3 separate regions of the Homo sapiens genome follow, and regions 1 and 2 are each linked to region 3. Evidence: fine-mapped expression QTL. A gene starts in region 3. Each other region holds a variant in brackets. All regions are shown on one strand. Distances are from middle to middle.

Region 1 (8,176 bases), 710 kb after region 3:
TCGCCTCTGATCACATGCCCAGGGCTTACTTCTGCTTGGACGTCTGGCACTGCTGAGGGGGTGGGCACTTGGGGGCACAGGGCTCCTGGCACTTGGGTGGGGGCTGGCAAGGCTGCTTGGTCTGTTGGGGTGGGGGGCAGTACTGCTGAGGTGGAGGGCAGCACTGCTGGGGTGGGGGACAGCACTGCTGGGGAGGGGGGCAGCATTGTTGAGGCGGCGGGCAGCACTGCTGGGGTGGGGGGCAGCACTGTTGAGGCGGGGGGCAGCACTGCTGGGGTGGGGGGCAGCGCTGCTGGGGTGGGGGGCAGCACTGCTGCGGGGGAGCACACTGCTTCTGCTTCTGCTGAGACATTCTGGGCTGGACTTGCAACTGGAAACAGAAAGACACAGAAATGAGGAACACTTGAGCCATAGAGAGACCCTAAGCCCAGGTGAACCCCCTGCCACATTCCTGTCCTGCTCTGCTTTTACCTTGCCCTGATCCCTTCACAGATTTAAGAGGAGTGTGTGTGTGTGTGTGCGCGCGCGCATGTGTAAACTTTAAGTGTTTACAAGTTATTTCAACTCTTTTCAAGACAAAGAAACATGGAAGGAAGGAAAGATAGGAAAGGAGGAAGGGAGGGAAAACAGAAATGTTAGGAGGGGTTGAAAAGAAAGAAAAACATAAAAAAAGAAAAGGGAGAGAGAGGAAAAAAAAGAGGAAGAATGAAAGAGCAGACTGTTGTATCCTATTATAGCAAAACCTGTGGCATCTGGAATAAATTGCCTGGGATCTGAGTTCTGGCTAAATCATTTATTAACTATATGATTTTGAGCAACTAAGGTTTTCCATACTTACCTCTCTTAGAGTTGGTGCAAAAATTAAATGAGTATATAAAATACATACTTAAAATATGCATGCATACGTAGGTATGTATGTACCGACACACACATGCAGAGTAGTAGCACAAAATGAACACTATATAAGAGTTGTAATTTGTTAAGTAAATTCATAAACAATTTAAAAGGCGCATCTTAACCACTCTCTAAAGGAGTTTATAAAGAGAAAACTCTAGAGATAGATGAAATGGACTATCTAGCTTGCCTCTCTCAATTACAGTTGAGGAAAGCAAACCTCAGAGGGAAGGAATGGCTTCAAAGCCACTCGGCATAGATGGTGGGAAAAGAGGTCTCCTGATTCCCAGAGCAGAGCCTTCCATGGTGCCACATCGTCTTGTCCCTGCAGCCCTTTGCTCCATGGACATCCACAACTCTGCTGTCCCAAGGGAGTCTGTTCTCTTTCCTTCCTGCCTTCTCTTTTCTTTGAAAGGACAGTCCTTCCAGTTGCTCTGCCCAGAACTGGTCTCTCCTCTCCTACTAATTCCCTCTTAGCACCTGACAAGATGCAACACCCACACCATGCCAGCAGCATCGCTGAGATACTGACCCTCTTGTAGATACCCCCCTCCTTCTCCCTGCTCAGCCCAGCCTCCCACACTACTCTGCTGGATAACTTGCTGGACCCAAGATAGGTTTGTCACAAATGATATGGAAAAAAGAGGTACCCCAAAAGACCCATCCTTTCTGACCACCACCCAGAGAATCAGCCCAGTCCATAGTTGGTTAGGGATGCAGGCAAGGCAAGGCTGCTATAAGAGGTACTACCTTTCCAGACTTACCAAGGTTCACCAGCGACTGGAGCAGATAGGTGTGGAGGGGTTTGGGATGCTCTGAGCCTATCTACCTTTTATATACCTCTCATCCCTGCCTGAGGCCATGAGGTGGCCCAGGATTGGGGTGTCCTAATTAGTCCCTAGTCACAATAGGATCCACCTGTCCTTCCTCAAATTTTAAGTTTTACTCACCCCCAGGGCTGGTATGGCGGGATTTGGAGATGACAGTGCCTTCACCCTCCCCTTGCCTCATCTCCCCATCATTTTACGAGGACTGGCTTCCTTGGATTTCCAAACCCACTCATGACTTTTGACTTAGATCCCTGGCATCTAGGATGGTCCCAAGCAAGCATTCCGACCATGCTGGGTGTGGGGGTGTGAGGGCAGTGTTCTGGGATGTTCTGGTTGGCAGAGAGGAGGGGATGGGACAGGCAGCTTATGCAGGTAACATAAGAAAACAGCTGAGGGGGCAGATGGCTCTCTTGGAAACCCACCACCCTCAGCAAAGTTGTGACTTTGACTTGACCTAGGCTCAGAGTCACATTCAGCTTGAACTGGTGGGAAGACAAGACAAGAGGCTTTCATTTTTTACCTATTGTTATTTATACAAGAAATGGCAGCTGCCACTCTCTGTCTGTTCTGCTATTGGGAAAATCGTTAGGCCCCATTCGGGGAAACTGGTTGGTTACAGTAGATAGTGCTTATCTCTAAATCTCCCTACATATATCACATATCCATATGACTCCAGGGTTCCCAGGGAAATGATTATCATAAGGTGGAGGGGGTGGGGGAAGCTAAGAAGCATTGCATTAGAGTGAGCTCATGGAGGAGTCACAGTGACTGGATTCTGGGTTCTGAGCTCCTGGGGCCCCAGTCCTGGCTCTTCCTCCTAACTTCTGTTAGAAGTTCCAGGACAAAGAAGGGTGGCACGGGATACAGACTTGGATGCTTCCCATACCTGGCAAAGGATGGAGCTCATCTTTAAAAAATTCCCAAGTGGTGCTCAGACTGAGGCTCTGCCTTTTACCAGTTGGGTGACCTTAGGAACCAGATGTTTTTGCACTTCAATTTTCTCACCTGCTAAAGAGGGTAACAGCACCATTCTGCATGTCAGTTGTAAGGATTAAAATGGACAACTTATTTAAAGTATGTGCAAGTGTTTGGCACAAAATGCATGGTCAACAGTCGTTGGGTGCTCCATGGAGATGGGCTTTGAATACTAGGGCAAGACACACTCTTAGAAATATGGAATAGGAAGTTGAAAAAAGTTGGAGGCAAGTAGTGGCACTTGCCACCCAGTGTCATAAGCTCTTGGTTGAAAGAGACAGGAGGAATAAGTTCAAGGAATCCACTGGAAGTCATGTTGACTATAGTTAATAACAATATGTGACATGAAAATTGCTAAATGAGTAGATTTTAAGTGTTTTCGCCACACAAAAATGATACATATGTGAGGTAATACATGTATTAAATAGCTTGATTTAGTCATCCCACAATATATTCATATATCAAAACATCACATTGTACACTGTACATATATATAATTTTTACTTTTCCCCTAAAAATACATTAAAAAAGACTTTTGAGTGAGAGAAATGGAAATAGGCAAGCTAGTCCTGAAGATGGCACATTTTAAATCTCAGCCATGAAATTTAGCCATGGTTCCACTATTTAATAAAAGCCTTAGAACATCCCAAGACCTTGGGGAGTCATGCTGCATCACTAGAAGACACAGGTGTGGAAACCGATGTTCTCTCTCTTAAACCATGGTCCTGACTCTCTGGGATCACAAGATGTGCACGGGCTAGTAACTAAGGAGGGCCAGAGGAGTCCAGCCCTTCCCAGGAGGAGAATCCCTTCAAGCTGGTATCACTCAGACAGAAGCAGCCCCAGAAAGCCTGAGAGAGGGATTTCAGCTCAGGTCCCTAATAGCAGAGAAGAAAGACTATGTGGAGTTGTTATCCTGGGCTAACCATTTATTCATTAAGATGCAATTGTTCCATGTGCCAGGCACTATGTCCATGCTGGGGATGCAGGGGGAAGCAAGGATGGCCAGGCCCTTGCTGTTTCCAAGGCAACAGGACAGAGGGAAGCCTGGCTTGGCAAGTCTGTCCTTGTGAATCAGGCCTTTGTAGATGGGAAGGGGCACTAAAACTGTGTCACGTCCTCTTACCTTCTTACTTCCAACTCTTACAGATACTTTTCAATTGTTAGGTTTGTATTAACCAAAGAAATCAAACCCACATGTCACTGGAATGATGCCTACATGGCTGAAGAAAGTGTGAACATCAGCTAATTTGTGGGGCTTGGGGTGTTAAATCCTGTTAATTATTTTTTGTATGTGCCCCAACCACCTAGGACAGGTTTTTTTGTGTTTGTGTGTGAGTGTGGTGGAGTCAGCTACCTCAAGAATGTATAACACAGAACTGCTTCTGACACCAGAGGACAGAAAATGAATGGGTAATCTAGAAGCCACTAAGAAACCCAATTACTTATCCCAGGTTTTGGAATGGTATTAACCACTGACCTTCATTAGCATTGCTCTCTGTCTTTCTCTTTCTTCAATCCTGACTCACACACACACACACACACACACACACACACAC[ACACG/G]CACACACACACACACACACACACACACACACATGCATGCACATTTACACATAAACACAGGGGTCTTTCCTATACTCTGGCCCCAAGTATTTATGGGGGCATAAGGCCAGCATGCAGTAAAGTTGATGAGATGGAAGGTGGTATCTTCTGCCAATTTTTTTTTTTTTTGACAGAGTCTCACTCCGTTGCCCAGGCTGGAGTGCAGTGGCACGATCTCGGCTCATTGCAACCTCTGCCTCCCGGGTTCAAGCAATTCTCCTGCCTCAGCCTCCCAAGTAGCTGGGATTACAGGCATGTGCCATCATGCCTGGCACACCCGGCTAATTTTTGCATTTTCAGTAGAGATGAGGATTCGCCAAGTTGGCCAGGTTGGTCTCAAACTCCTGACCTCCAATGATATGCCTGCCTCGGCCTCACAAAGTGCTGAGATTATAGGCATAAGCCACCATGCCCGGCCTCTTCTGTCAATTCTCAAAACATGTGAACATACCACCTACCATAGGTTCCTATCTGCCGGGAAATGACTTCCCACATCTGCGTTGCTCCCATATGGCTAAGGCACAACATGGCTCTTGAGGACATCATTTTCCTCTTCAGATTTTCTTAGGAGTTCATCTCCTCCTTATTTCACTTTCATAAACATGAACTTGATGGTGAGGTGGCAGGGATGGAGGTGTATACTAGGGGCAGGGGTGGGTGGCCCTGCCCCCCAGGATGCCTCTGACTTGTGAATAGACACCCACTCGCTTGGCTTCTAGTTCTGGGCACTTGCAGAACATCCAACCTGAGAAAGACCAGGACCTATCTGGGCAGAGGGTAAGGGCAAGAGCTTAGCAGTGTTCCAGTCACTCAGCACATGTGCAGGAGGCAAACCCCACGCCAAGTCCTGTGGGGGATGGGGAGCTGTGTGACACATAGAGCCAACCCTCTCAGAGCTCATGATCTTCTTGGGGAAATAAGGCCAGACCAGCTATGACAGAGGAGCTGGTGCTGGCAGCCAGCATTGTGAGCCAGGACCTGAGGGGTGATATGGAACAAGGGTGGTGAAGGAGCTCAGAGGAGAGGTCAGCCTCTGAGATGGGCCTGATGTTGGCAGAAAGGCACTGGGGAAGACAGAAAATGACCCTTAACTGTGGGCCCTTTGTGGGAAGAAACACTGACTTCATCTTTGTATCCTAGCACCTAGCAAAACTATGGTTCAGAATTGAAGCTAAATTGTTTTCTGTGAAATTAATGAAAGAATGGTCTGAGAAACTGTTTGAGGGTAGAAAGATGCTTTGTGTGTCTGGAAAAAGAAGAAGTCAACATGAGTGTAGTGGCTGAGCAGTGGTGATGAGCACTGGGCAGTGGACATGAGACCAGACCCCAGCGAAGGCCTTGCACTCTAGACTAGCCAGGAGAGCTGAAATTGCAGGGTGGGAGGCTGGGTCCTGTTTCTAAACAGTGCAGAGGTTACCTTTAGGGTGGAATCTTCTACCAATGTTATAATGTATAGTATAATGTATAGTTTTCAAAATTCTATTGATTATAATAAGGAGGTGGACAGGCACTAGTGTATATTTAGAAGGCCTGGGTGTTCTAGCTTCTAGCTTGGCCGGTAATTGTGTGCTTTTGGATGGTTGGTTTCCACTCTCCGGGGCTCAGGTTTTCTATTCTGTAAAGAGAATCATCCCCAAGGTCTGTGCCAGGTTTGAGCACAGTATAATTTTCCCAAAGGAGGGACAAGACTGAAAGTATTCTGGGGATGGATTTGACAGTGGAACTCAGGGTGAGGTGGGGTAGGAGTGAGGATGCACGAGATGGAGGCAGGGAGACCAGTTGGGAGGGAAGAAATGATAGGGCCCTCACCTAGGATGGCAGCAATAGAAGTGGGGAGGGAAGACAGGCTTAAGAATGACTTGAAATGAGAAAACCCAGGACTGGAGGACTGAGAGGAAGGAAGGAAAGGGAAGGAGGAGGCAAGGGGACCTCATGATTCTAAGTGACAAAAATGGGGCATACAGATATTAGGCCTGAGAGGAGGGAAAAAAAAGACATTTGCTTACACACATTGTGTCTGACAGAGCAGAATACCCAGGAGAAGCAGCAGGGCAGCTGGAGAGGAGGGAGTGATGTCAGGGATGTCACCTGCTGGGCACCAGATTTGTGCCAAGCACTAGAAAATAAATGACAGAAGCATAAGCAAAGAAGCTTTAGGCCCCAGAAGGTCCAGTCCTCTGCCCTGGTAGCAGAGGCAGAGGACTGGTCTGTCGGTCAAGGACCACAGAGTGCCCTGGACTAACAGGTGCCAGAGCTGGAAGGAGCCCAGTAATCAGGAAAAAAACATTCCCAACTCTCAACCCAAGCACTGTGCCAACACCGGATGACATTCTCAACAAGCCACAGAGAAATGAGAAATGTTTCTGCCCACAGGGGTCCACAGTCTGGGGGCCTTTCCTGTCTTCCCCAGTGCCTTGCTGCCAACACCAGCCCCATCTCAGAGGCTGACTTCTCCTCTGAGCAGTTGGTATAAGGTTATTTTATAGCAGTTGGTATAAGATTAGTGGCTTTTATTTCTTTGGAAGGTCTTTTGTTTATTTTTTGATGCTATATTCTTTTCACAGTTACTAGTACTAAAATTATCTTTATTTTGTAAAGTGATGGTTGTTACAAAGGGCCTTTGCCCTTACTTGGCAAAATAAAGAGTTGTTCCTTATTGACTATTTTTTTTAAAATTTAGGTTTAGTGAAACCCAAACACCTAAGAACCACTAATGTGGTCTCTCAAGCCTAATCACTAACAAATATGGAATAGGTGAATGAAAAAAGAGAAATGACTTACTTGAGGTCACATTTTATAAGATGCCATAGAGAGGGCTTGACCGAAACCCAAAGCCAACCAACCAACCAAACAAATGAGGACTTTGGGTGATGTCAGAATCTCAGCTGGAAATTCTCCCCTCCTGGCATCCCTGTTCCTAAAAGCCAGGCCTTTGCAGAGGTGGCAGGACCAGGCTTATCATAGCAGCCACACCCCATCCCTCCCGACTCCTCCCAGACTCTCCAGGACACAGTGTGAAGCTCTGGTCCATCCCTCTCAGCCTGGGAGACATGCTGTGGCCTGCATGGTGACTTCACTGAGACAGAACCCAGTCCGGCTCATGCCTCCTCTGCCTTTGCCCAGTCTCTCAGATCCTGGAGGATTAACTCTTTCATATCACCCACTCTCTTACCGACTCCTAGGGAGCCTTTAGTCGTGGGTCAGGAGCAGTTCATCTCCATGGCCCCCACAGCCACCTGGCTTTACCATGCCCAGACCCAGTGACTTGACCATCGTGAGAGAGGAGTACCGGGGTACTTTGATGCCCCAGCAGACCAAGACATACCCTCATCCTGTATGGCCTCATGCTATGGAATGAAGTCCCTGAAGGACTGAAATTCTGCAGTTCTGCCTCCAGGAGGCTCCTGCTTTCTGTGGTGATCTCTTTCATGCCCATGGTGTGAAATGCCACCTTTCCTCGAAGGACCAGCAACTTTTTATCCCTAGATCCCCAGGCTGGGCCTCTACCTTGTCCTTCAGATCCACCATATATCCAGTTGCTGCCTCAATATCTCCGTTTAGGGCACAATGATGTTTTGATCTATGCAAACATATATTACACCCCATAAATTAATAAATATGTGTATGTAATTATTTGTCAATTTAAAAATAAATACATTTATTTTAAAAACCTTTATCTAGTGTTTCAAAGGCTCATTGATTTCAGCATGTCCAGGACTGAACTTCTCATCCCTTCCCCCTGCTCTCGCCACACCTACCATCCTCCTGGCAGCCCTGGCAGCAGCTGGGAACTACCTCTAACTACATCCACTTGCCAAGTCCCATTGACCCATCTCTAGGTCACTGCCCTAGGCTGTCCTGGCTTTACCAGCTCT
Region 2 (8,176 bases), 25 kb before region 3:
CTGCATGAGCAGCCCCAACTCCTCCAGGTGACTCTGCAGGGCCAGGGAGGGCCGGAAGGGGGGCTGCTCACCCCGAGTCACCCGCTCGATGATCTCTGTATTGGGGGGGTAGAGGAGCTGAGGGGTGGGGCTGGCCAAGGGCCTAGTGAGAGACTGGGGCAACCAGCTGAGATGGCAGGGGAAGTCCAAGACCAAGGCATGGGGGCGGGGGACTGGTCACTGGCAGCAATGGGTCAAAGGGTGGTGACTGAACCCCATTACAGAAGGAAGGTGTGGTGGTGCTGCCAGGGGACCCTCTCCCTGGGGCTGGGGTTCGTTGAGACTGTGGCTGGGTTTAAGGAAGGTGTGCTCCTCTCACCTTTGGGGCTCAGGTCCAAACCTTCCACGTGGAAGACCCCACTCCTCAGGGCAATCTCCTGAAGGATGATCCCAAAGCTGTATACGTCACCAGCCTGGGAGCCCCGCACAGGGGGTGAAGCCATTCGCAGGAGCTCAGGGGCCGTCCACAGCTTTTCTGTGGGTCAGAGGTCGGTAGTCACCGAGTGAGGGAGCCCAAAGCTAAGGGGTGAGGGGGAAACAAGGGTGTGGCCGAAACTGATCTGGATGCATCACAGAGTGTTAGAGCTAGAGGAGGCCTTAGAAACCACTTCGTCTGGCCTTCCCTTTTTCATGGGTGAATGAATTGAGGCTGGAGTCAGGACAAGCATGCCCAAGCCCATCAGAGGCCTTGCATCAGTCTCCCTACTGGGTGGTGCTGGGGGCAGGTGTTAGGTTCAAGAGTCAAGGCTCACTGGCATAAACGGTGTGTCCTTGCTCTGGGTCCAGGTCCCTGAAGCTCTCCAGCCCATAGTCGGTGATCTTGAGCACAAAGCGCCCATCTACCACGCAGTTGGATGACTTGAGGTTCCCATGGGAACAGATAGCCCCATTGTGTAGAAACAGCATGCCCTGGAAATGTGAGTGGGCAGAGGTATTGGCCAGGAGTGGGACCTACACCCGTGGCCAGGAGAAGCATGCCTGGCCCCTGCTCTACACATCCAATAGGTGCTTAGGGGCATACCTTGACGATGTCATTGGTGAGTGAGTACCGGAACATCCAGTCCAGGGTGATGCTCTCATTCTCCAGAATGTCCTGCTGGGGCAATAAGAGTCAGACCAATCCCCTGCAGATCCCCCTGGGAGTTGGAGGAGGGTGCAGGGTCCTACTGATGTGAACTGGTAGAACAGGACAAAACTTTGGATTGACTCTAGTGCCACTGCCCTTCCCCAACTCCCATTTTTACAGATGGGGCCAGAAAGGTCAGAAAGAGGGCGAGGCATGCCTGGGGTCTTATGGCCAGTCAGGGGCAGAGCCAGGGCTAGAACCCAGGTTTCTTGACACCCCTTGTCCCCCTCACCTGCAGGCTCCCACGGGGACAGTACTCTGTGAGGATGCAGATATTGGGGGGGTCGGTGCAGGCTCCCACAAACCTGGTCAGGTGTTCATTCTGCACATCCCGCATCTGCAAGTGGGACCAGCATCAGGAGCTTGACAGAGACCTCGCTCCTCACCAAGCTGCTCACTAGCTTCAGGGACCCTCACTCTTCTTAACTCCTTATTCACTTTCTGCAACCATCACTAAGATCTTCCCTGGTGATTCCCACCCATGTCCTTTAGCCCACCCTCCCCAGAATCTGCTCCTACTCCCTCTGCATCCTAAGCCCTCTCTCCCCCAGGGACATCACATATGGCCCCTCAAGATTCCTCCAGGTTATCTCCAGTGGTCTCTTCTCCTAGCTTAGGATACCCCCACTCCCACCCACAAGATGAAGGTCCATCCCAGGGCTCCAGTCCCTGCCCCTTTCTTGGGGTACCCTGAGGTCCCTCCATAACTAGTTCTGTTGGCCAGTCTCCCTTGCGTCCCCGAGGGCCCCTTCTCCATGCCACTGCCTCACTCCCCACATTACATGCTTCAGTTCAAACAGGACTTTTCGTGTCAGCTCAATGCGTTTACGGTTCACACGTTTCACAGCCACGAGGTTGCCCTGGGCATGGAATGGAGACTGTCACTGTGAAGAGCATGGTCCCATGTCCTGGGAATTCCAGCTGCTCCCGACAGCCCATCCCTGCCCTCAGGACCCTCACTTGTTCCCAATAGCCCACCCCCAGGGCCCCCATCTGCTGCTCCCCACCAGCTTACTCCTTCCCTCAGAACCCCCCACCAGTCCTCCATCAGAGTACACTCCTGCCCCAGTCCCAAGGCCCAGTGATCTTTCCCCAGGCCCACCTTATAATATGCTGTCTTGGCAAAGACTTGGAACTGGCCCTCTGTGGTTAGCAGGGAGCCGTAATTGGAGCCTCTCTGAAAGGAGGGAGAGCAGGAGGAATGGTCAGCCGGTGGGCCCAGTCTGCATCCTGATTGCTTGTGCTCTGGTCTTTATTTCCCTGCCTTATCCTGCCTTATCTTTGTGTCACCCTTCCTTTTTGTTGTTGGGTTTTTTTTTGAGATGTAGTATCATTGTGTCATCCAGGCTGGAGTGCAGTGGTGCTATCCTAGGTCACTGCCGCCTCAGACTCCTGGGCTCAGATGATCCTTTCACCTCAGCCTCCAGAGTAGCTGGGACTACAGGTATGCGCCACCATGCCCTGCTAATCTTTGTATTCTTTGTAGAGACGATGTCTTGCTCTGTTGCCCAGGCTGGTCTTGAACTCCCAGGCACAAGCAATCCTCCTGCCTCGGTCTCCCAAAGTGCTGGGATTGCAGATGTGAGCCACTGTGCCTGGCCCACCCTGCTTTATGTTCCACATCATAAAATTTCCTCCTCATTTACTTTTTTTTTTTTTAAAGTGTTTTCACAGGTACTATCTCCTCTGACCTTTAAAAGAGCCCTGTGAGGGAGGCTCTGCTGCTGTAATCATCATCTGAGACAGTCTCGGAGAGGGACTATGAGTCGCTCAAGGTCACACAGCAAGTGAAAGCAGAGCTGGGACTAGAATCCTGCTCCCTTACCTATCCCTCAGGCACTGCCCCTTGTACCCACCTCTCCTTTATTGCCCCCCAACACAAACACCAGCGTTCTTACCCCGCTCAGGGTCAGCCGGCTGCCTGCACTCCGCAGGTGCCTCTCAAGGCTACTGGGCTCAACGTCCTCCCAGCGCACCCGCCACAGCTCCGAGGCCAGTTCCTTCTCCAGCTGCATCTTCCTGGGATACGAAGGCTGCATCTGAGCCTGTGGCTGAGCCGCTGACCCAGGGCAGGGTGCTCAGCAGCCCCTCCTCAGAGCCGTGGGACCACACCATGCACTCAGAGATGGAGGGGGAATTCTATCCTCTGGACTGAGAATCAGGATGGCTGGGGGAAATTCTGCCTTACTGGGGACCTTGGGGGAATCACCTCAATGTCCTTACTTGGGAATGAGGCCGCAATATCTATTTCATTCTTAACTATTATAAGAATGAAAAGAAATAGTGAACATGAGGCCAGGCACAGTGGCTCATGCCTGTAATCCCAGCACTTTGGGAGGCCAAGGTGGGTGGATCATGAGGTCAAGAGATCGAGACCATCCTGGCCAACATGGTGAAACCCTGTCTCTACTAAAAATACAAAAATTAGCTGAGCGTGGTGGCATGTGCCTGTAGTCCCAGCTACATGGGAGGCTGAGGCAGGAGAATTGCTTGAAACTGGGAGGCGGAGGTTGCAGTGAGCCTAGATCATGCCACTGCACTCCAGTCTGGCAACAGAGCGAGACTCCGTCTCAAAAAAAAAAAAAAAAAAAAAAAAGAAAGAAAGAAATAGTGTACGTGGAAGTGCCTGGCACACATTATATGCTCAACCAGCAGTGATTTTTCTCCCCTCCCTCCTTGCTTTTGTATATCATTAACTCCTCCTGTACTTCATTTTAGCCTCCACTGGACGGCAGGAACAAGGCTCATTCAGCTCCCTTCTCCATTCTAGGTTGGGCACCTGGCACACACCAGGGCTCACCCTCCTCAGCTAACATGGGCATGATTGCAAAGGTTCAGAAAGTTGCTTCCTATCTGGCCTGCAAGAGTAGCAAGGAAAACCAGTCCACGCCCCTATGATGTCACCCATCAACTTCTCTGCTTCTTGGATCTTTCTGACTCTCCTTGGCCATTCCTATCCTTGTCTCCTCCCCTCGCCCTGCCATTCCCTTCTCTTTCTTTCTCCTCTGGCTTTTAAGCCTCCTTTCTTCCTCATCTCCCTTGGTTTTCCCCTGGTGCCCCTTCACCCCTGCCCTCTTCCCTCTGGGTCCCCACCGCCTCCTCTGCTATTGGTTCTCCGGGTCCCCCAGCCTCACTCAACCCCCCACATCACAGCTCACCTGTATATGAAGAAGGAGACAATCAGAATGCCGAGCAAGGAGAGGCTGCCCACCAAAGCCAGCACCTCCAGGGTGGAAAGGTGATCTGCAGGAGAGAGTCCATATTGCAGCAAGAGAGATTTGGGTTAGACAGCAGGAGGAAGAACTTTCTAATAGTCCATCAGTGAACTGGGATGATGGATGAAGGGAAGAAAAAGGCAGGAGTCATTCTCCAGAAAGCCCTCAGCATGGG[A/G]CAGGAGCACCTACTCGACTGTGCTTAGGGGAAGGATGCAGCATCTCTGGGATGGAGGCCTGGAAGGCAAGGGGCAGTCACCTTGGTTGCATGCTGGGTCTTCGTTGTCAAAGCCACATTTGGGGATGTCAGGAGGAGGGTACCCCAGGGGCCAGTTCAGTTTGCGCCCCGACACAGCCACCAGCTCTTGGGAAGTCCCATTGTAGTTCAGTACAACCTAAGGGAGAGCAGGAGTGGTGGCTAGGCCAGGGCCTGCGGGGAAGGCATGCTGTGAGTGCAGCAGTCTCACCTCCCACCTACCCCAGCTCTGCTTCTAGAGCCTACATATATATCTGGGTTGTCACCTGCTTACCAAGTCCCCACTGCAACTGGACACAGGACCTCATACCACACACATAGTACTCAAGTGGAAACACCTGAAAACTATCAAGGGGTTTATAAAGAAAACTCCATTTAGAACCCGATCTCTACACTCAGGGAGTTTATAATCTTGGTTGAAGTACCAACCAAGCATTGATTTTTCTCTACTTATTTTCTTGGTAGAAAACAGGAGAAGGTAATGTTCACCTTAGCCTACATTCGCAGGCCCAGTCCATGTGCCCGTCTTCCAGGAGGCCTTCTCTGGATGACCTGTCCCTTGTGGCCATTGGCCTCAGCGCCTTCCTGTCCCTGCTCGCTTGCAGAGCTGTGTAATGTGCATCTTTCACAGCCCTGTCTCTGCTGGGAGGCGGTCCTGCCTGCCTCCCTTCGGAGCTCCCCGAGGGCAGGCTTGTGCTCCCTCCTCAGGCATGGGGCTCCCCAAGTGTGATGCCTGTGAGTCCCTATCATTCTGGTGGCTTCCCCAGACTGGAGCTGGGTCTGTTTTATCCAGGGCTCTTGTAAGTGTCCAGGCATGGTGGAATGGCTACAGGATAAACAGGTGCCCTGGCAGGGCTGTGGGGGGGAAGTAGGAGGGTGAGATGTCATTTGGAATTGGCACTGTCTTCTGGGTGCACAAACTTACCCTGAAGGCACCATTCTCGGGATCCATATCCCAGAGGGAGAAGTCTGTTTCCCGATCGCCACTGCTATCAATTTTCAGGTATCCTGTCACACCTGAGGACATGGGGGAAGATGACTATGTTTGAGAGAATAGAAGTTCAGGGGTGCCCCACTTCATCTCTTCATCCTCTAATCTTTTTTGCCTTGCCTTCCAAACATACATGTATACAGAATGATAGTAAATGGTAAAACGGCCGGGCACTGTGGCTCATGCTTGTAATCCCAGCACTTTGGGAGGCTGAGGCGGGCAGATCACCTGACGTCAGGAGTTCAAGACCAGCCTGACCAACGTGGTGAAACCCTGTCTCTACTAAAAAAAATACAAAAAATTAGCCAAGTGTTGGTGGAGGGCACCTGTAATCCCAGCTACTCAGGAGGCTGAGGCAGGAGAATTGCTTGAACCTGGGAGGCGGAGGTTGAAGTGAGCCGAGATTGCACCACCACACTCCAGTCTTGGGGACAGAGCGAGACTCCATCTCAAAAAAAAAAGAAAAAAGAAAAAGAAAGGTAAAAGAACTCAGTGCCCAGCAGGGATGATTGAGATTGGACACTTTGTAGGACTTCTGAGGGATGGGCCTGAAAAAAGCTGTGGAGGAAAAGGCTGGTGTGCATAGGTAACTGCTGCAGGACAATAGGCTTCTCATGGCTTGACACTGGGCACCTGGGATTCATCCCCCAAGGCAGCCCATTCCAGCCACCTCCAGGCCCTGACCTTGAAAGCTTCGGTTCCACATCCGCTGAGTGATGTTCTCCCCATCAGTAACAGTTCCCCCATGTGCCAGAGTCTCCGTCACTGCCTGGATATAGAGCAGGAGCCCGTCGTGGAAGGATGCTGGGATGGTGTTCACCTGTAGGGGCAAACAGAGGTCGGCTGGGGTGGGCATATGAAGGGCATGGAGGTGGGAGCTGTGGGGAAGGGAACAAGAGGCACTGGGATTTTGGAAGAGGATGGGAGAAAATAACACCCCTATATCACAGGGAGATTTTACTATTTAAACGATGCCTTTGGATTAGCATCACTTCCTGAATCCTACTAGGTAGACAGGGCAGGATGTATCGTCTCCATATTACTGATGATGACCTGAGTTTCAGAGGCTGAACTTGCCAGTGTCCTCCTCCATCATCACGAGAAACATGGAACAATGGGAAGGGAGGGAAGGAAGGGGAGAACTGGGAATAGGGAAGGATGGAGGCTGGCAGAGGGTCATGGAGTGGGGGCTGGAGGTCCACGCTGGAGGGTCCCGGGACCCCTTCTTACCAGGCCATCCTCCATGGTGAAGTTGAACTGCTCATAGGCCAGGTGTTTTAACTGCTTCAGGAATTCCAAGTACTCGGGATTATCTGGGTCTTTATATGTAATGATTTTGGCAGCCTGAGAAAGGGGTCAGTGGAGAGCAGAGAGTTGGGAGCTGACTATTCCCTAGTACTGTGGGGCCCCAACAGTTGGGAGCCCACCTCCCAGAGCTGCGTCTCTGCTTAGCTCAAGGTCAAACTGGACCCTATGCCCTGCATGAAGTGATGCCCATTCCAAAGCAGGGGATCCAATGGGATGCCTTCTCCAAGTCCTGTCCAGGCTGTGGGACTTTATCCTCCTCCCGCCTCAAGCCCATTTTCTTATCTTTTTAGCCTGCTGGTGGCGAAGCGCCCCTGGGCAGTCCCCTGCCCTTCATTGCCTAATTCCCAGTGAGCATCACCAACCTCTTTTCTGTTCTGTGAGTTACCAGGAGTGCATAAAGAAACAAACAGACAAAAACCTCTTTTCTGGAATTCTTTCAGACGCTGAGGGACACAGTGCCCAGAAATGATGTGCCACAAGCTGAGACAGCCTGGGCTTCAAACCTAGGTACTCACCTGAAAGGCCTGGCGGGCACTGACATCCTGCCCATCCCCTCTCTCCCAGGGCCTGCGGGGAGCAGGGCCCTGTCCACCTTGCAGGCTTTGCCCAAAGATATCCAGGTGGAAGAAAACGTAGTCCTCCCCACACAAGCCAGCTTCCAGGGCCAGGAGCATGAGGGTTCTGAAGGCATCAGGGGAGCTGCAGATGTAGATAACTGGAGAAAGACGGAGAGTCAGAGAGAGAAGCCTAGGTACTGCGGGAGAGACAGGAGTAGGAAAGCTGGGGCACCCAAGGGAGGAAGTTTAGAGATAGGGTGCAGGAGAGACCCAGTGAGAGTTAAGTGGTAACTCCCGGCTCAGCCTAGGCCACAGCAGGAGAAAGTCGAAGGGTGGAACGGGCGGGTGCGGGGCGGTGGGCGGGAGGAGGAAGGGGGAGGCGGAAGGGAGGAAGGAACGGGTAGGGAGAGGGGGATAGTGGAGCTGAAGGTGGAGAAGGATGGGGCCAGGAGGGAGAGAGGAGGGAGAGGGAGGGGGAGAAGAGAGGGGATGAGGCGCAATGAGAGGAGAGGATGAAAGAAGGGAGAAGGCTATAGGGAAGAGAGAAAATGTGGGAGGGAAAAAGGGACCGGAACCGAGCTGTGCTAGGGTGGGAGGGAATGAGTGGGGGTCGGGGAGATGAGAGGATAGAGACGTGGTGGGGGTGGCGGAAGAAGAGAGGGAAATAGAAACTCAGCTGTAGAAAGG
Region 3 (8,176 bases):
TAAACTATTTTGTGCATTCCTTTAATACCTCATACCTCCCTGTGTTCTAGGCGCTGCTTGCAGATTCTGGCTGCAGGACTGTTCCTGCCAGGTTCAGTGGGTATCACTGACCCCTGTGAGAGTGGCAACTTTAGAGTACACACAGTCATGACCCTAGAACAGCAGGTATTGGGACAGATATGAACTGAGTTGTTTTGCCCCACTCTTTTGAATACTGCTGCTCAGCAGGCAAAGCGGAATATGGTCTTTACGGGTCAGGAATTTGGGGATTCTGAAAGACTTTGGTCCTGAGATTTAAAAAGCTGTCTTAATCTCTGTTTTCAGAAGGGTATTACTCAAATAAGGTCCTTTGATTTTCCTTGCTTACTCTCACTTTGCTTTCCTTCAGGACATGGTCTGCTATACAGCTCAGACTCTCGTCCGAATCCTCTCACATGGTGGCTTTAGGAAGATCCTTGGCCAGGAGGGTGATGCCAGCTGTGAGTGACCACTGTGGGTCAGGGGTTTTGTATTGTAATCTGGTACAGAGAAGCTGTACACTACTTAAATGTCTTTAATATTTCCACAGTGTAAGTAATGACTTTTATGCTGGGCTACTCGTCTAAATCACCTTTTTCTCTTTCCTAGATCTTGCTTCTGAAATATCTACCTGGGATGGAGTGATAGTAACACCTTCAGAAAAGGCTTATGAGAAGCCACCAGAGAAGAAGGAAGGAGAGGAAGAAGAGGAGAATACAGAAGAACCACCTCAAGGAGAGGAAGAAGAAAGCATGGAAACTCAGGAGTGACATTCCCTTCACTCCTTTTCCTACCCAAGGGGGAAGACTGGAGCCTAAGCTGCCTGCTACTGGGCTTTACATGGTGACAGACATTTCCGTGGGATAGGGAAGATAGCAGGAAGAAAAGTAAACTCCATAGAAGTGTCATTCCACTGGGTTTTGATATTGGCTTAGCTGCCAGTCTCCCATTTGTGACCTATGCCATCCATCTATAATGGAGGATACCAACATTTCTTCCTAATATTCTATAATCTCCAACTCCTGAAAACCCCTCTCTCAACTAATACTTTGCTGTTGAAATGTTGTGAAATGTTAAGTGTCTGGAAATTTTTTTTTCTAAGAAAAACTATTAAAGTACTTCCTAGTAGGGCTCTTGGTCTTTCTGGTTGGTGTTTTTTGTTTGTTTGTTTTTTTGCATGTGGCAACCTTTTTTGCTTTTGGCTTTGTGTACTCTTTTGTTGAAAATGATAATTGAGTCATTTAATTATAAATACTCAGATCACAATTTGAAGCTGTCTTTGAATTAAAGGACAAACTCCTGGAACCTTTCCATATACCAGAGTAAACTAGAATATCATTTTAAGTATTTATTGAATAAAATGATTCTATCAACACTGCTACTGTATTCAAGCCAGTGCAATAAAAAAGTGGGTGGACAGAGGTCATTCACTTTGACTTTGCCTGCCCCCTCCAAATCCCCAGTGTAAACAGGAAAATGAGAAGTCACAGGTAGAGGACATGCTGTCCAGGCCCATGTAACCAGGCATGTAACATACAAAGGAAGCCCCTCTGGTTAACTAGTCCTGAAGAAGGTAAGCCTCACGTATGCAGCTTAAAAAAAAAAGTAGAGGCCTCAGCTCATTTGTGAAAGGAAGCAAGAGCCATAATTAATGTAAGTCCTTTGGGAACCTCATTCTGGCTGTGTGTAGGTTTCCTGGGGCCCCTACATAAATGGGTAAGACGAAGTGCTTCAAACAAACTGTACGGCTCCCTTTTTAATGTCTGAAGGTCTATGGGGACTGTCTCCTAGGATCTTTGCATGTCTGTTGAAACAAGGCAGCTGGGGAACAGTACTTGTGCTACTGAGTCCATAGGCTCATCTGTTATTTGCCTGGGGAGCCAGGGGGGTAAATTCCCGAATCCAGCATTGCTCTCCTGCGGGCTGTTTCCTTGGCAACACTGTGGTTTAGCCGTCTCAGTCGTTCCTACAAGACAAGGAAGGTTTGGAATCTTAACCACTGTGAAAGGCTTGAGAGTGTAAGTGAACTAGGTGCTGAAAAATACCGGGCGTGATCTACCTCAAAGTCAGTCTTCAAAAGTATATATAAGAATGTAGGCCGGGCATGGTGGCTCACACTTGTAATCCCAGCACTTTGGGAGGCTGAGGCGGGTGGATTACCTGAGGTCAGGAGTTCAAGACCAGCCTGACCAACATGGTAAAACCCGTCTCTACTAAAAAATACAAAAAAATTAGCTGGGCATGGTGGCGGGTGCTTGTAATCTGAGGCAGGAGAATCGCTTGAAACCGGGAGGTGGAGGTTGCAATGAAATGAGATCGTGCCACTGCACTCTAGCCTGGGTGACAGAGGGAGAACTCCATCTCAAAAAAAAAAAAAAATGTAGGCCAGGCATGGTGCTCATGCCTATCCCAGCACCATTTAGGAGGAAGTGGCAGGAAGATCACTTGAGCCCAGTTTGAGAACAGCCTGGGCACCATAGTGATAGCCTGTCTTTTTTTTTTTTTTTTTTTTTTCCCGAGACGGAGTTTCGCTCTTGTTGCCCAGGCTGAAGTGCAATGGTGCGATCTCAGCTCACCGCAACCTCCGTCCCCCGGGCTCAAGTGATTCTTCTGTCTCAGCCTCCCAAGTAGCTGGGATTACAGGCATGCGCTACCACGCCCAGCTAATTTTGTATTTTTAGTAGAGACGGGGTTTCTCTATGTTGGTCAGGCTGGTCTCCAACTCCCAACCTCAGGTGACCTGTCCACCTCGGCCTCCCAAACTGCTGGGATTACAGGCAAGAGCCACCGCGCCCAGCCGATCCTGTCTTTTTATTTAAAAAAAAAAAAAAAAAGGCCAGGCAGGCCGGGTGCAGTGGCTCACGCCTGTAATCCCAGCGTTTTGGGAGGCCCAGGCAGGTGGATCACTCGCATGCAGGAGTTTGGGACCAGCCTGGGTAACATGGTGAAACCCTGTCTCTAGAAAAAATACAAAAATTAGCTGGACATGGTGGTGCATGCCTGTAGTCCCAGCTACTTGGGAGGCTGAGGTGGATGGATCGCTTGAGCCTGGGAGGTAGAGGCTGCAGTGAGCCTTTATCATGCCACTGCACTCCATCCTGGGTGATAGACCTTGTATCATAAAAATAAATAGCCAGGTGTGGTGGTTCACTCCTGTAGTCTCAGCACTTCGGGTGGCCAAGGTGGGAAGCTCACTTGAGCCCAGGAGTTCCAGACCAGCCTGGGCAACATGGAGAAACCCTACTTCTACAAAAAAATACAAAAATTAGCTGGGCGTTGTGCACGCTTGTAGTCCTAGTTACTCGGGAGGCGGAGGCAGAATTGCTTGAGCCCAGGGGGCGGAGGTTGCAGCGAGCTGAGATTGAGCCACCGCACTCCAGCCTGGGTGACAGAGGGAGACTGTCACACACACACACACAAGAATGTAAATGGCAGCAACTGAATAGTGAGAATGAGACGAATTTTCCTAGGTATTTTTCAAGTACTGGGAGAAGTGAATTTCCCTTTCCCCAAAGAATTTTAAAATTACAGTGGCTTTCACTGTGTTGAGGACTTACAAAAAAGGGCAAAGAATCACTGTTGGTAAGATATTCTTTTACCTGAGCATTCTGTAGAATGTTGTTAACCAAGACAACGCGTCGCCGGGCATTAAGTAGCTTCTTAACATAGGGGTCAAGATCCAGGGCCACCTTCTGATCCTCATTTATGCGGCACAGTTCTGGGGATGGAAGTAAGGTGCAGCTAAGATCTAACGGCTTATCTCTTGTTCTGAGGGAAAGCAGGCTGGTAATGGGATGGAAAACACTTGCACCCAAACGGGCCACAGCCATTAGAGATTTAAGACATCCCTGAAAGGAGGAGTCCTTTGGCAGCCCTGATGCCCTGGAAGCAAGTGACAGAAACTCAGCCCAGGGGTTGGCAAAAACCTAAGGTCCTGAAAGTGGGCTGAAGAATTCCGGGTACACAGGGATGCTCACTCACCTGTGGCTAGGTTGTCAATTTGTTCCCGGAGCTCTACCTGGCTCTCTCTGCAAAGAGGTACAAGGCCTACAAGGTCAGGCAGTTACCGGAGCTCAGGAAACGAACTCCCCTACGTATTTACCAAGTACTGAGAGAAGCCGGCCTCCGCTGAACCCTCCACCTGCGGCCTTCCCGCCTGTCCTCCCCGCCTCGAATCAGTTTCCTAAATTTATGCCCACTCCCAGCCAGAACACTTTCTTGGCCCCGCCCCTACAAAGCCAGAGAGACAGGCCCCGCCCCCAACTTCCCTCCCGGGCACCTGACGGCGTGTACGTGAGAGTCGAGCTGCTGCACAGCGGGTCGCAGGAACTCCAGCAGCCCTTCGGCGAAAAGGTCGCGGCCTGTGGGCCCCGCCACCGGGGTCCCTGCCCCCGATACAGCGGCGGAACCAGCCCCCGCCATCACGAATTGTCCTGAAGCCCGAAACCTGCCGCGAGGGCCGCCGGGAACCGGAGCCGCGCCGCACTGCCCCGCCCCGTGAGGGGGCGCCCGGGAAATGCTGTCTCCACCAAGACACCGGGGTTTCTGGGAAATGGAGTCTAGCGCGAACCGGGCGGGGAGGAGGGCCAGGCCGTAGGAGTAGAGGCCTTGTGGCTGGTCTTGAAAATCTCCAAAGTTCAGGTTGTAGAAAGGAACCAGTTTTTGGAGTGGATACTTTTCGTTTTCTTTAAAGGTGAAAATAAACGCGAATACCTGCAGTTGTCCATAGCCTTCCCATGTTAACTTTATGAGATAGCCGGGCATGGTGGCGGGCACCCAGCTACTTGGGAGACTGAGGCAGGAGAACCGCTTGAACCCGGGAGGCGGAGATTGCAGTGAGCCGAGATCGCGCCACTGCACTCCAGTCTGGGCAACAGAGAGACTCCGCCTCAAAAAAAAAAAAAAAAAAAAAAAAAGCAACCCAAACCAAACAAAAACAAACCAAAAACAAAAACACTTTATGAGAAAGCCACATTATATTCATAGTATCGTTTTCTATTTCTAAAGAGTTTATTGTGGTTGGTTGTTTTTAAGACAAGGTCTCTCTCTGTCGCCTAGGCTGGAGTGCAGTGCCACCGTCTTGGCTCACTGTAGCCTTCACCTCCTGGGGTCAAGAGGTCCTCCTGCTTCAGTCTCCCAAGTAGCAGGGACCACAGGTGTTAGCCACCATGCCTGACTAATTTTTCATTTTCTGTAGAGAAGAGGTCTCACTATGTTTGTTGCCCAGACTGGTCTCGAACTCCTGGGCTCAGGTGATCCTCCCAACTCAGCCTCCTAAAGTGCTGGGATTACAGACGTGAGCCACCACGCCTGGTCTATTTCTAAAGAGTATATTTTTAATGGCATTAAATATGTAAAAAACTGCATGTATCCGAATTTCATTCCTTTTTAAGGCTGAATAATATAAACATGCAGGCAGGGCATGGTGGCTCACTCCTGTAATCCCAGCACTTTGGGAGGCTGAGGCGGGAGGATCACCTGAGCCCAGGAGTTCGAGATCAGTCTGGGCAACAAACCTAGTGAGACTCTGTCTCTACAGGAAATAAAAAATTAGCCAGGCGGCCAGGCGCAGTGGCTCACGCCTGTAATCCCAGCACTTTGGGAGGCCGAGGCGGGTGGATCACGAGGTCAGGACATCGAGACCACGGTGAAACCCCATCTCTACTAAAAATACAAACAATTAGCCGGGCGCAGTGGCGGACTCCTGTAGTCCCAGCTACTCGGGAGGCTGAGGCAGGAGAATGGCGTGAACCCGGGAGGCAGAGCTTGCAGTGAGCCCTGATCGCGCCACTGCACTCCAGCCTGGGCGACAGAGCGAGACTCCATCTCAAAAAAAAAAAAAAAAAAAAAAATTAGCCAGGCATGGTGGCTCACAGCTGTGGTCCCCGCTACTTGGGAGGCTGAAGTAGGAGGACCTTGAGCCTAGGAAGTTGAGGCTACAGTGAGCCAAGATCGTGGCACTGCATGCACTTCAGCCTGGGTGACAGGGTGAGACCCTGTCTCAAAAAATAAAAATTAAAAAAAATTTTTTTTTGAGACCGAGTCTTGCTCTGTCACCCAGGCTGGAGTGCAGTGGTGCAATCTCGCTCACTGCAAGCTCCGCCTCCCGGGTTCATGCCATTCTCCTGCTTCAGCCTCCCGAGTAGCTGGGACTACAGGCGCCCACCACCACGCCCGGCTAATTTTTTGTATTTTTAGTAGAGATGGGGTTTCACCACGTTAGCCGGGATGGTCTCGATCTCCTGACCTCGTGATCCACCCGCCTCGGCCTTCCAAAGTGCTAGGATTACAGGCATGAGCCACCGCGCCCGGCCATAAAAATAAATTTTAAAGTTTCCTTAGTTCACTTATTTTTCCTTTCATTTTTAGAGACAAGGTCTCACTCTGTTGCTGAGGCTGGAGTGCAGTGATGTTATCATAGCTCACTGTAACCTCAAACTTCTGGGCTCGAGCCATCCTCCTGCCTCAGCCTCCTAAGTAACTGGGACTACAGTCACCTGCCCCCATGCCTGGCTAATTTTTTAAATTTTTTTGGTACAGGCAGGGTCTCCCTATGTTGCCCAGGCTGTTCTCGAACTCCTGGCCTCAAGACACCCTTCCATGGTTTTCTTTTTCCCTGAGAATTATGAAGACAATGATTCCTTCCTTAGTTTAGTTCGGTTTGGTTTTTCATGGCTTTCCAGATAATTTACATCTGTCTCCTAGGCTCTAATGTGTTCCCGTGGCTCCCAATTCCCTAGGCCATGGGGAAGGATGTATGAGCAGAAATGCTCCTGGAGGACAGGCAAAGGCATCCATAGTGATAAATGGGCACCAGAACGTTCAGCTTTGAGCTTCATCTTCAGTAATAAAGGAAGATAAGGCATTTGAATCACTGTGAGATTTGGTGGTCAGCAGCTCTAAACCTAAGACCCCAACTGTGATAACTTTTTTTTTATTATTATTTTTTGTAGAGACGAGGCCTCCCTATGTTGCCCAGGCTGGTCTTGAACTCCTGCATCAAGCAGTCCTCCCACCTCGGCCTCCCAAAGTGCTGGGATTACAGGCGTGAGCCACCAAGCCCAGCCCCAACTGTGATAACTTTTAAAACCTTATACACTTACACTGGGTGGGGTGGCTCATGCCTGTAATCCCACCACTTTGGGAGGCTGAGGCGGGAGGATTGCTTGAAGCCAGGAGTTCAAGACCGGCCTGTGCAACATAGGGAGACTCCCATCTCTACAAAAAAATTAATAAAAAAAATAACTGGGCATGGTGGCACACACCTGTAGTTCCTGCTACTCGAGAGGCTGAGGTGGGAGGATCACTTGAGCCTGGGAGGTAGAGGTTGCAGTGAGCTGTGATCATGCCACTGCACTCCAGCCTGGGTGAAAGAGCAAGACTCTGTCTCACACACACACACACCAAAAACCACCTTATACACTTTTTGTCGTTGATTACGTTTGTATCCCTGTATCTTCCTCTCTGGTGATTAGAGGTAAAGCTCTTGCGAGAGGCTAGGAGCTTATTTTGGGAGTAAGTGGCAAGGCAACTGCAACCTGCTTCACAGTCAGGCCTTGGGAAAAGGAAGCCCAGGGGAGAAAGTAGTGACAGTGTTGAAGAGGAATGGAAAAGTGTTGAAATCTCTGAGGCTTGTACTGCAAAGAGAGAACAGGTGTTGACCTGGGCTGGGAGAGGGCCTTGGAGGTTGATGGCCCACTGTTTGCACAAGAAGCCCTTGTGTGTTAGGCCACTGTCCTTTCAGGTGCCTCTTCAATTCTTTAGATTAAATACTCCCTATTGCCGGATTTAGCAAACAGAATAAACAAAACACTTGGGACACCAGGTAAATTTGAATTTCAGATAAACAACAGTTTTTTTTTTTTTTTTTTTTTGAGATAGAGTCTTGCTTTGTTGCCTGGGCTGAAGTGCAGGGGTATGATCTCAGCTCACTGCAACCTCCACCTCCGGGTTCAAGCAATTCTCCAGCCTCAACTTCCCGAGTAGTTGGGATTACATGCGCCCGCCCCCATGCCTGGCTCTTTTTTTTTTTTTTTTAGATGGAGTTTCACTCTTGTTTCCCAGGCTGGAGTGCAGTCGCGCGATCTCGGCTCACTGCAACCTCTGCCTCCCGAGTTCAAGCAATTCTCCTGCCTCAGCCTCCTGAGTAGCTGGGCTT

Which allele goes with the higher level. Alleles are on the strand shown, and positions count from the first base shown. SD is a standard deviation of normalised expression in the study named. Not every link is listed here.
In carriers of allele ACACG in region 1, the expression in fibroblasts of the gene that starts at base 4,481 in region 3 tends to be lower than with G alone (large effect, 2.0 SD a copy in GENCORD).

What was found.
Region 1: its variant is fine-mapped to the expression of SNAPIN in fibroblasts (GENCORD, PIP 0.95).
Region 2: its variant is fine-mapped to the expression of SNAPIN in lung (TOPMed, PIP above 0.99).

The regions. Positions count from the first base shown.
Region 1 is chr1:152,940,731-152,948,906 of GRCh38, reverse strand. It overlaps SPRR5 (small proline rich protein 5), which reads right to left and starts at 1,701. Exons shown (of 2, transcript NM_001395435.1): 1 at 1,659-1,701; 2 at 1-370. The coding sequence starts at 352. The coding sequence ends at 26. All of the region lies in intron 1 of LINC01527 (long intergenic non-protein coding RNA 1527), which reads left to right. The variant ACACG/G (reference allele first, on the strand shown) is at 4,259.
Region 2 is chr1:153,679,972-153,688,147 of GRCh38, reverse strand. It overlaps NPR1 (natriuretic peptide receptor 1), which reads right to left. Exons shown (of 22, transcript NM_000906.4): 2 at 7,448-7,647; 3 at 6,855-6,968; 4 at 6,309-6,444; 5 at 5,559-5,650; 6 at 4,637-4,772; 7 at 4,324-4,408; 8 at 3,064-3,184; 9 at 2,268-2,342; 10 at 1,948-2,025; 11 at 1,398-1,502; 12 at 1,061-1,132; 13 at 792-948; 14 at 359-514; 15 at 1-95. Among named protein-coding and RNA genes, the nearest start is that of NPR1, 5.4 kb to the right of the region's middle. RefSeq lists enhancers at 1-540, 39-1,238, 2,642-3,141, 3,142-3,643. The variant A/G (reference allele first, on the strand shown) is at 4,556.
Region 3 is chr1:153,655,008-153,663,183 of GRCh38, reverse strand. SNAPIN (SNAP associated protein) reads right to left here and starts at 4,481. Exons shown (of 4, transcript NM_012437.6): 1 at 4,298-4,481; 2 at 4,000-4,046; 3 at 3,618-3,736; 4 at 1,332-1,984. The coding sequence starts at 4,440. The coding sequence ends at 1,883. ILF2 (interleukin enhancer binding factor 2) reads left to right here. Exons shown (of 14, transcript NM_004515.4): 12 at 51-165; 13 at 389-479; 14 at 628-1,396. The coding sequence ends at 788. RefSeq lists an enhancer at 4,636-4,715.